2 linked regions of the Homo sapiens genome follow. The protein of the gene in region 2 purifies or fractionates together with the protein of the main gene of each other region. This does not show direct contact. Each region holds a gene or a part of one and is shown on either strand. Other genes may lie near its edges.

Region 1 (5,219 bases), on a different chromosome or scaffold from region 2:
TGTTTGTTCATTTAGCTTTTCTCTTTTCCACCTTCCACAGAAGGCGCTGAAGGGTAATGAATCTTCAAGAATTAAGATTAGATAGAAACCTGAGTAACCAGTCATTTCACAGGCAATAATTGGCTACAGAGTAATGCTGACTTTGTTCTAAGTCAGAAGCTGACTTGGTTATTTACTATAGAACACAAACATCCACAGCCACTAAATGACTTTACTGAAAACTAGCCACATTAAGTATGACATGTAGAGATAACAAAACTACTTTTGAGAACATGGTTTAAAATTCTGAAAAATAAAAGATAAAGATTTTCTTATTTCTAATAGGGGGAAGGGGTTCCTACATTTCCCAGAAGATCAAACAAGAGACCCAAACACAGGATGTAACGACAGCCCTGTACAGCAAGATGCACTTTGCACAGACAACCACAGAGATTGCCTCCACTTCTTTATCCTAAAGTGTTGAGATTTAAATCAATTCAGACACTCTATATACAATTGAGTCTCTTTTCATTTTTAATTTTATTTTTTAAAAAAGACATTGAGGTTATGGTAAGAAATTATGAAGTTACATTTTTTTAATCTGTCAATTGCTACAGTAGTGGAATAAATAAATAAGTTTTTTAAAGTTCAATGTTTATAGACATACTTATAAAAAAATGACTGAATTAGAAGACATTAAATAATGTTGATACACACCAGGAAGGGATTTAGGCAAGGAAAGGCACATCATATTACCACAAGAAATAAAGACCATAGTTGGAGGTTAATGGACAGCCAGAACTTTAGATCTTGTGGTAGGTTTCCCAGCTCTGGAGGGTCATTATGGTGAAACGTTCTTTATAGTACTGGGCTGGAATAAATAAATAGCAGTTGAGGAATTTTACCTTGTAACTGTAATATAATGTAAAAAGAAAGCACACTTTTAATAACCCTGGTATGTGAAGAGGAAAGAAAAAAAATCCAAAACAATTTGGTGGTACTGAAAATCTTACGGAGAGTTAAAAATAATACTAATCCTCGCCCGGCTGAACTGGAATTCTTGCAGTTACAAAGTTAAAATTTCAAGTAAACACTGTATTTTTCACTTTTTGTAGACAGACACAGTGCAGATACAAACAGCTGCCATATCTCACCTCAGATGAAGCTATGTGTCAATGCTTAGGGAAAATGATCTTAGATAATTTCCCAATTTTATAGAGCTTAAATCTTTGAAAACAGCACTAATACTGCTGGTTGACTGGCTATCTACAACAGCAAAGTGAACATAAAGTTTTGACGATGAGAGGTTTCCCAAAGAAACTAATATAGAGTTTTTAGTTGAACAGATACAGTTACTTTAGTTTTACTGAAAAGTCTAACAGACATTAGCACAACTTGTTTTCGGTCACATTCCTACTCCCAATTTTCTTTCATAAATTTGTGTCAAGTCTCTATCCATTTCTTTCTGTCTAGACCTAGATTAGTTTATTTGAAAGATGGCATCGCTTAAAGTAAACCACATAAATTTTAGTGGTATTAAGTGTGTATTTAGTGGTGAATGTGTATAAATAAAATAGATTTTCATAATAAAATGGTATATCCACAAATAAAAATTAAAAACAATTGAGAGGTGGGGAAAATATCAGTATTATTTTAAAAAAATAAAAATGGCAATTGTAAAGCAGGCAGTTTCTTGCTCATGCCACACGATATGCCTTCATTAAGGTGTACTCTTTCCGGTTGGTGTGAGCAGCCCAGATGAAGAGAGCAGAAGCCATGAACTGTAAGGGAGCAGAGACACAAGCCAGGCAGAAGGACCATCCAAATTCACCGGATACATTGTCAGGGAGCTCTAGTTTCTGGTGGAGTAGTTCAATTCCAGCAACATAACAACTTACTGAGCCCAGTGTACACAGACCTTGGGGGAAAATTTAGAAAACAAAACAAAACATGGCTGGATAAAAGCACAGTAAAGAGCTTTTCAGGCAATGTGACAGGGCAGTTAATACGTGAACATTTCAGATTTATAACTCTTTGGTCCCTAAAGAGACAGGAAGAAGCTAAAAGGTAAGTATGATGACAAAACCTACCTGCAAGGAGATGGAGAATGCCCGTGGCAATGGTGGGATATAAGCTTCGGCAAATGCAAGCACAAAGTCCGATCAAAGCCCCAAAGCACATCAAACCTAAACTCACAAAAGGTAAAAGGAACTGGCAACGCCAAAGATCTGATTTTTAAAAAGAGAGAAAAGAAATGTTACCGTGATTTCAGACCATTTTCCCCGCAATGGCAATTTCTTTCATATTCTAATTAGATCTTTTCTCAAAAAGTGTGAAAGTATTTTAACATTGAGGCCTCTTTTCTAAAGCACATTATTCAAAAGGATGCTACTCTTGTCCTGATAAAAGTAAAAGGACACTAACAGGTAGTAGCAATTACTGAGGGTTCACTATGTTCCATGCTATGTTTGTCTACACATTTTCTGTATTAATCCTCCCAACAACCCTAGAAAGTAGGTACAGTCAGCCCTCCATATCTGCAGGTTTCACATCCGCAGATTCAACTAACCAAGGGTTAAAAATATTCAGAAAAAAAAATGATACAAATTTACAAATATATAGTATAACAACTATTTACATAGCATTTATATTGTATTGGGTATTATAAGCAATCTAAAGATGATTTAAAGTATACAGGAGGATTGTGTAGGTTATATGCTAATATTATGCCATTTTATATAAGGTACTTTAGCAACCTTGGAATTAGCAGGGGGTCCTGAATCCAATCCCCCATAGCTACAGCTGTATTATTATTAATTCCATTTTGTAATTAAGGAAACTGAGGCAAGAGTCATAAATAACTTGTAAAAATAACACAGTAAGTGGTAGAGCCAGGATTTGATACAAAAATCAGTCTGACTCTACCTACCAACAATATCTAGGTCTTTATATGATCTAAAGGCAGTAACAACAAGTAAATTAATGGTAATTATAAATGACCTGTCTTATAGGGCTGTTGAAGAATATATATAAAGCACAAAGCAGAGAATCTAAAGGTAGTTTTAATTATCATAAATCTCTCATCAACATGGGAAGAAAACCTGATGACCTCACAAAACATGCCATTCCATTTTCCAATAATATTCATTATTAGAAATGCATTCATATCAATCTTGACTAAACTTTACACCTTTTGGTGCTGGTTTTGCTTTCTGGAACTTCTTATGTGTTTTTCTAACTTACTTTCTTTCAAACTCTCCTAGTAATAAACTGCTTGCTACACATTCTCTTTATAAAACTGAATACCTACCTCTTATTCAACCTTTTCTCTTACAACATGGTCATTCTTCTGGGCAAGTCCCTATAGCCCTGAAAACTGAGGCTCAAATCTGAAGACAGTATTTCATGGGCTGCCTGACCATCAGGGAATAGGTTGTTCCTAATAAATACTTTCATCTTTTTTGACATCTACCCTTTTGTTACTATCACCTAAGACTGGATAAACACTTTTGACAGGCCTGACAACTCACTGACTCATTTAGAGCTTGCAGTAAACTTTTTTCACATATACTTACCTGAACTCAAGCAGTGGAAAGTGTTTAATTCAAATATAGGAATGTATAAGTTATCTCAACTAAATTTCCTTTTACTAAATGGGCCCATTAATAACATCTTTTGAAGGTCTAGATCCCATCATCCAATGAAGTAGTTGGCCCTGTCAACTTCAAATCATTTGAAATTTGGTAAGCATGTATCTACCTTCTAAAATATCAACAGAATAGAGTTCACTGGATACTGTTAGAGATTTTATTTCACGTTGGCACAATCTACTAACTCATCTTATTCCAAAAACATAGTCCAAAAAGAGACAAATAAAATTATCTTTGTTCCCCCAACTGTCCTGGTGAAATCAAAGTACTCACAGGTCCTAAGGAGATCAATCCCGCTATTGTGGTTTCCGGGATCAACAAATTTCTCCATGAACTGCTCAGTTAGTGTGAAACTCACACATTTTGTGACCACATCAAATGACTCTGGAACAAGAACAATTGCCTGTTGTTTTAATTATAAACATTTAACAAAAATCTCTTTCAGTAATTATTCTCTGAAGTAAAACAGTAAAGGATGTTTCCAGAGGGGTCAGCAACTTCTCTGGCCCTGACTGACACACAGGTTTCATAGATGTCCAATGGATGCCACTGGTTCTCAGTGGCAGGCTGAAGACATAGGCACAAGGAAGAAAAATAAAGTGGAAGCAGTAAAATGAATGGCAGAATAGCTATGTAGAAAGCCTAGGAAGAAGGGGAGGGAACAAAGACTGAAATAAATAGGAATGTTGATCTTCTCATGCAACCGTGCTTTATCAACCATATTCCCATCTCAGGGAATGCCAAATCCACACTTCCAGTTCCTCAGACCAGAAACTTTAGAGTAATTCTTGTACATTTACACTCCATCAGGAAATCCCAGGAATTCTTCCTTCAAACTATGTCCAGAATCCAGCTGCTGCTCAGTGCTACCATTCTGGTGTGAGTCATAATCATCACTTAACCTGAATTACTTCTATAACCTCCTAACCATAGTCTTCTAGTTTCCACCTTTGTCTGCTGCCTCTGTTCTCACAACAGCCAGGGTGACCAGATCAGGGCTCAGCACTGTATCTGGAGTCAACACCAAAGTTCTCATTCTGCCTAGAGTCCTCCAGGATTTGCCCCAGTCCCACTCCCAAAGTAGGTCTTTAACAGCATACCCAACTTCCCGTCTCTCCCTCCATTCCAGCCCAGTGGCTTCCTTACTGGTCCTTGAATATTTCAGGCATGCTCCCGCCATAGAGCCTTTGCAGTAGATGTCCTTTCCAACCTAAATGACTTCCTCCCCATTTACCCATATGGCCAACTCTTTTGTCTAGTCTTTAACTACATTCTTTACTCAAGTGGTGTCTTCTCAATGAGACCTACTTTAAGTATCCTATTGAAAATCATAACCTATGGCCACCAATATTCCTTTTCCCACATATTTCCAAATCCCTTTTGTGTTCTATTTTGCCATAGCACATGTCATCTTTTAACATACTGAATAATTATTTATTCTGTTTATACTGTTATATTCTGTTCACTGCCTGTCATCCTTTATTAGAATGCTAGCTCCCCAGGAGTAAGGATTTTGTTCTTTCCTGATGTTCTCCCAGCTAAGAGGCCCTGGAACATGGAGACATGCAATAAATTATTTGTTTAATGAAT
Region 2 (7,284 bases):
CCCCCCTCCCTCCGCCCCTTCGTCCCTAGGGTGACAAGTTCTGCATCCATTTCCCCAACCTCCATCCTCAGGAGGAGATTGGAGCTGGCTGCCTCTCCTTTTCCCTGCGGTCAAGGGGACTTGCTACCGGCCGAGTCCCTGCAGGCTACTTCCTGCTCCCCAACCTGTCGAGACGGGCAGTGGCTCCGGCTAAGCAGTCTCCCTGTTGCTCCTTTGGAACCCGGGCTTCCAAAGTTGGAAAGTTCGCGGAGAGAAGCGATGGCGGGGAGGACAAGGAAGAGCTTGTTGCTGGGGTGACGAGGCATTGCGGCGTGGTCCGGGGCGCGACTCGGGAGGGAGCCTCCTGGGCTGCGTCTTGCCTAGGGGTCGCAGAGCCGGCGCGCGGGGAGCAGGTGCAAGCCACCCGCTCCCGCAGCGCGGACTCGCAGAGGTCGCAGCTTGTCGGCTCCCTAGCTCTCGCTGGGGGACTCGCAGAGCCCTAGAGGTTGTCTGCAGCACTGCAGAGAGGTGGAAGTGGGCTCGACACCATGCGCGGTGAGGAAGGCTGTGCGCGGGGGAACTGGACCTGAGGATGGTGGCAAGGAAGGGGCGTCGTTCGAAGTTGGATTTCAACACAATGGGCCCAATGACCTGGGAGGCAGCGACTTACTGAGCCTTTGGGGTTATATAAAAAAGGACAGGAACTCAGATGAGAACTGAGGGGTGAAGGGTATTACTGAATACATTGGCTTGGACTACAGCAGCGCTCAGGCTTTGGCGTGCTTTTTGCTTTTCCTCCCAAGTCTGGCTTGTGGGAGCTTAGCTCCGCTCTAGAGGTCACTAGGGGGACACAACTTTATCTTGGCGCGTCAGCTTGCTTTTTAATTGCTCCGGAGTACTCAAAGCACTTACTGGAAAGCGTTTAAAATCATGATCCTTAATTCTTAAGAAGACATTACTATGAAAACACCTGGGACTTTTTGTTGTTAAAAATTATAACCTATGTATGACAATTTTATTGCAATGCCTTTTCTTAAAATATTATAGCTCCTGTAAAATTAGAGGGGCTTTAAACCTCTGATTCCCCCCCTCCATAAATTAGCGCATGGGTATAGAGATACACGAGTAAAGAAAGAAGAGAGAATATATTCACCTACAAACAGATTCCTCTCTTTATCATAATATCAAATAATTAGTCTAAGCCCAGATTGACAAGGCGTATGAGCTACACTTTTGGTTCGCTCCTTTTTTATGGAGCCATATGGCACGATGAGTGAAACAGAAGGATTGGTTTTCAGCACTGCTGATGTGGCTATCCATTGGCAGAAATACATTTCATTCCCACCCCAAACCTTGCAGATTGTAAATGGTCCATGAAGAGTGGAAAAAATTTTACAGTTTTACAGTACATGGTAGCCAGAGAAAATCTTACCCTTGAAATTAATAATCTTGGCAGAAGCACAAAAAGATACAATTAGATTGATGAAATGAGCTCATATAAGAGATTTGATGAAAAAGACACCTCCCCTTTATTCTTCCGTCCCCTCAAAACACCAAAAAGTTTTTGTTTTGTAGGTCAGTATGGAATCATTTGTATTTTCTTGAATAAGTTTAATTTGATAGTGAAATAATTGAAGAATAGCAGTTAAGTGTTAACAGTTTCTCTGGAAGGATTAATAATCAAGCTTTCTTACGACATGTGGTCTCAATAAATTTTATGTAGTACTTTAAAAATAAGGTTTTCTCATGCTACATGTTTTTCTTAAAGGAAAAGTTATGTTACTTAGCTCCTATCAACTTGTGTTGAGTTGTTCTTGTTTTTTAAAACAAGTTCATTTAGTATTTCACAGAAAGAAGGACACCTTTAAAAACAAATCCTTGGAGTTTCACTTTAGCGAAGCAGGATGAATTGTGATATTTGATAGATGACAGAAGCAAACCCAGAAAGTTGTAATCTATTGACTTGCCTCAATTTTGCCTTTTAAGAGGAGAGCTCTACAAAAGCATCTGACTGCAGGCTTGCTGAACTGCTCTCAGATGTCTGCTTCTAAGCTACAACCAACTAAACTGGGACTGCCTGGTAGGAAAAATTTCTAGGCTTTATTGGCAGGGGCAGGCTACTGGGGTGAACTTTGCTGGATAAAACACTGTAGATTTAGCAATATTCCATGCTGTGTTGGTTATTCTCTTACAAGAGCTGCTTCTCTGCTTAGCTACACCGCATGCAGGGAGAGATCATTCGTCGGATCTTGTGACAGGCAAGTTGCTCATTGGCTTCTGAAGTCCTAGCAAGAGAGACTATCCATAAGCCTAGAAATTGGCCAAAGAGAAATGCAGTTTCTTAACATTGATAGAAGAATAAGATCTGTTGGCAGGATTTCTCAAGGGACATTAGCATTCATTTGTGACATCTCATCAAAAGGACAGTCTTTCAGAAAGGCCAATGGAATCTTTTACAATCCAATATTGATAATGTTTTTAACGAAAAAATGCTATAGTTCATAATCAATACAAGTCTTATAAATGCAAGCTGGTTACATTGGTTATAATCACGTCACCACCCCCACCCCTGCCTTTTCCAATATTAGTACAACAAAGACTTCTTGCTCAATTACTTAAGTGTAAAACTTATGTTTAGGTTAATTTATTCATTTATTCATTTAGCACATATTTATTGAGCACTGAATATGTACCAGATTCTGTGCAAAACACTAGGGATACGGTAATGAACATGATAGACAATGAAGTAAGAGGAGGCCTGGAAGAAGCAGGTGACAAATAATATGAACCAGAAAATTTCACATAGTGATTAATACCAGGAGAAATAAAACAAAGTGATGTGCGAGCAAATGATTTTGAGGTTACTTTAGATTGTCTGGAAAGGTGGCATTTGTGTCGGGAAACAAGTGATGAAGAGTAATTTGCATGCCAAGAACTGGAACATAACACTTCAGGCCTTAAGGTAGAAATGAGGTGGTAGCTTGGCACATTCACATACAAAAGGAAGAGGTGTAATGTGTAAGGAAGAGACAGTTAGGGAGAAGCCAGGCCTTTTTGGTCATAAAAAGGAATATAGAGTTTAAGTGCAATGAGAAGCCATTGGATATTCACTTGCTATTTGGGGATACATTCCTCTCCTGGAAGATTATTTCAGGGAGAGGAGCATTCCTACATCAACTCCCTAGGCCAACTAAGGTGACCTAATAGACTTCACTTTTCTAAAAGGTCCAGTTATACTCACGTTATTTTCTCTTGCTATTCACCAGAATACCTATGCAATTTCAGGCTGAGATATTGATAGCATCTCTAGGAATCCCTGCTTAGAAAACAATTCTAGAGAGAATGAGGATTAATTTAACATTTAGTACAAGATGATAAGATTAGTCACTTCCCTGGCAAGCCTTTCAATGCAAGTAAGTCTTAGGAAAAACATATTGTAATGGTAGAGGGGGATTCTGAGGGGTCCAGAACATGACTGTGCAGTAGGCAGAATGTGGAAGGCAGCATGAGGGGCTCCTAGATAACAGAAAGGGGTCCACAGAAGGAGAAGAGTGATGTTTGGAAGGGGACATGAGAAAGCCTCTAAAACAACATCAGCCAATTCGTGATTTTGCCAAGTGGAAGCCTGATATGAGCATGTTCCAAGAGAAACATTCTCATTCAAACACAGAAAAAGTTTAAACCAGGGTACTTTTATGCTTTTGACTGATCTTTTTATAATGAAGCATTTGTAACAATAAAAGCACACAGATGTTTACAAAGTCTCTTTGATTTTACTTAATCACTGTCAGGTTGTTCTGATGGATTACAGACCTCACAAATGAAAATAGCATGAACATATTAATGATAACTGCTGTTTGTTGGAGGTAGTTGCTTGATAGCTAGTTAAGGAAATCATGCTCTTGGGTCTCATTTTACTGTAGAGATGTTGGTAAGTGGGATATGGGGTATATTGGATGATTTTCTTTCCCCTAAGCATTTGTGACAAGAAGGTGCTATGATATTCAGGAAAGACACAAATAATAGTAGATTATTTTAAAGGTAATCATGGCCTACTTCCACCTCCAAACTACCTACTTCTTTGCCAAGGATTAACAATGAAAAAATATACTATAGCTCCAGGACTTTGTTCAGTCTCCTCCCCCTCTTTATACTCCAAGTGACTCCTTTGAGGCTAGCAAGGCTAGTAGGACCTCAGGGATTACCTAAGAATGGGGTATGGCCCTTAGTGATACTGGAACACAATGTGTTTATGACATCAGCTTTTTTTTCACAGTAGTGAATCGTAGCATGTTAGAGTTAGAAGGTTCAGTGTTGATGGAGTTATTGAAGAAATGATGGAGTAAGAGGTGAGTGATACTGCTAAATGCAAGAAGTCTATGTCTGTAGGAAAATTGGTCAAGTTTGTTATTCATAAGTACGTATTCTATACAACTCAAGAAATACACACACACACACACATATATATAGTGAAGTCTGAATATAAATTAGGAACTGAGCACTTCCTCTCCGTGTGTGTGTGTGTATATATATAGATATCCTGGGGGATTATTTAAAGAGAGTAGTATTTTTACATCAGCTCCCTAGGCCAAGTAAGGTGACCCAATGGACTTCACTTTTCTAAAAAGTCCAGTTACACTTATGTATCTTCTCTTAATATTCACCAAAATATCGACAATATTTCGGGCTGAGATGTTGATAACATCTCTAGGAATCCTTACCTACTGGTATTCACACCTGTTCATACTCCCCTTCCAAAATGAATCACAGCTGACCATGTGATCAGTACTGTACAGCAGAAAACTACATCATAAAGACATACACTATGGCTTCTGCCTTGTTCTTTTGTATTCTTTGCTTTCTTATGTTGCTCATTTTGGGGAAACCAGATGCCATGTTTTAAAAATACTCAAGGATCCCTTGGATTATTTTTTGAAGCAGAGGTTCATACAGATATTATTAACATTTCAGCCCAAAATATTGTCGGTATTTTGATGAATAGTAAGAGAAGATACATAAGTATAACTGCACTTTTTAGAAAAGTGAAGTCCATTGGGTCACCTTACTTGGCCTAGGGAGCTGATGTAGAAATATTGCTCTCTCTAAATAATTCTCCAGGATATCTATGTGTATATAGGTATATGTATGTATATGTATATACCTATGGAGAGAGAAGAAGAGCTCAGTTCCTAATTTATATTCAGACTTCACTATGTGTGTGTGTGTGTGTGTGTGTGTGTGTGTGTGTGTGTATTTCTTGACTTGCATAGAAGTCTTGAATCTTAGCTCTGTGTGGGAAGAACTGAGGCCTCCTGCTAATAGCAACAACTTGCTAGTTATGTGAGTGATCTATCTTGGGAACAGACCCTGCAACCAAGTCAAGCCTTCAGATGACTGTAGCTTCAGCCAACATCTGACTGAATTTCATGATAGCCCCGACCCAGAGCTATCCAATCAAGCTGCTTCTGGATTCCTGAATCACAGAAACCATAAGATATAATAAATGCTTACTCTTGTCTTAAACCACTAAAATTTGGGGGTAATAGGTTACATAACATTAGATCATGAATATACCTGTGGTTCATTATTTTTGCACCTCTATCATGAAATGTAATATTTGTTACTAGTTCCAACACTGATCTTGAATCTTAGCCCTCTTTCCTATTTAGTGAATTGGGCTGAAACCCTGAAGTTCTCTTTTCTTGTTTCCCTTGAGTTTCTTGTAGCAGCTTGCTTTCTCCTCTGCTTTTTTGAGTACTGATTCCTGGCTCCTCTAGTTCATTTAGTTTAGAAGATACTTTCCAAATTGAAGCACTACCGAACCAAAAATCAGAGTGATAAAGAGAATACAAAAGCCCTAAAATCTCCCAACAGCACAAGATTTCACAGTCCTCCAAACTAAGAAGATAGAAAGTTTCTTAAAATCTACAATCTTTTATTCTCACCATCAAAAATAAGAATGTAAGGTAATGAATATGTTAAATAGCTTGATTTAGCCATTCCACAATGTGTATATATATCAAAACATCAGGTTTCACACCATAAATATATAAATTTTTACTTGCCAATTAAAAAAGAAAAAACCCAAAGAAATGAAACCCTAAAATATTCAAATAAAAACCTTTCCAGCTGTATTTATCTATTCCTCCTTACCAAAGAATCCCTTCCTCCTCCCAGCCCAGTTAGTCCTTTGAGGTATAAATAGGAGACTGAGAAAGAGGATTTAAGAAAGGAAGGTTGCCGTCTCTTCTACTTGAGAGTAGGATATTAATCTATTTTATTCGTTCATGTAGTTCTCTATTCATTCAATAAGTGTTAATCAATCGCTTACTATGTACTGGGCACTATTCTAAGCATGCTTGGGATAAATCAGGGAACAAAATGAATTCTTCATGAGGTTTACACTATACATAGGGAAGACAAACAATGAATAATAAGCATGAATACATTGTTGATATTAAAAATTGAAAAGTGCCATGACAGAAAGAAAAAAAAATGAGCATAGTAAGGGGGATTTGGATTGCTAATCATGGGATGATGGTGGGCCAGCTGCAAGTATTAATAGGGTGGTTAGGGTAGGACCAATTGACGAGGTAATATTGAAGGACATGAAGCAGTGGAAGGGGAGGAGACTTCCAGAAGGAAGGAAAAGCCAGAGCAAAGACCCTACAGTGAAAATATACCTGGTATGTTTGACTAACAGAAAGAAGACCAAGTGGAATTAGTAAGGGGGATAGAAATAGAAAATGAAGTCAGAAAGATGAGGGAAGACTAAATTATATTAAACTTTTTAGAAAGTTTTAAGACTTTGGTTTTTACTCTGGGGAAATGTGGCACCAGTTCAGATTTTGAACAGAGGAAAAATATGATCTGACTTACATTTTAAAATAATTGCTACGGCGACTGTGTTGAGAATATCGAGCCAATATGTAGGGGTAATGAGAAACTAGAAGACTAGTAAGGAATCTTTTGCAATAACTCTTTAAAAATTTTCTTCTTCTGGTGGCTGAATAATACTCCATTGTGTACACACACAACACACACACACACACACACATACCCCTCACATTTTGTTTATCCATTCATCTGTGGATAGACACGTAGGTTGATTCCATATCTTTTTCTCTGGAAAAATATATTTTCAGTTCCTTTGCCTATTTTTAAGTTGGGTTATTTGTTTTTTTTTGTTTTTTGTTTTGTTTTGTTTTGTTTTTGCTATTGACTTACAACAACATGGATAAACCTGGAGGACTTTATACTAAGTGAAATCAACCAGGCACAAAAAGAAAAATACTGTATGATCTC

Evidence for each region.
Region 1: the proteins of SLC44A5 (region 2) and CLDND1 purify together in Homo sapiens (affinity purification with mass spectrometry; 2 studies listed by BioGRID and IntAct, with this or other methods). This does not show direct contact.

The regions. Positions count from the first base shown.
Region 1 is NC_000003.12:98,514,983-98,520,201, forward strand, and holds the end of CLDND1 (claudin domain-containing protein 1), read right to left. Parts: intron 4,014-5,219; coding exon 3,903-4,013; intron 2,208-3,902; coding exon 2,070-2,207; intron 1,898-2,069; coding exon 1,677-1,897; 3' UTR 501-1,676; downstream 1-500. UniProt on the Homo sapiens protein: Plays a role in negatively regulating the permeability of cells to small molecules.
Region 2 is NC_000001.11:75,608,084-75,615,367, reverse strand, and holds the start of SLC44A5 (choline transporter-like protein 5), read left to right. Parts: upstream 1-4,253; 5' UTR 4,254-4,328; intron 4,329-7,284.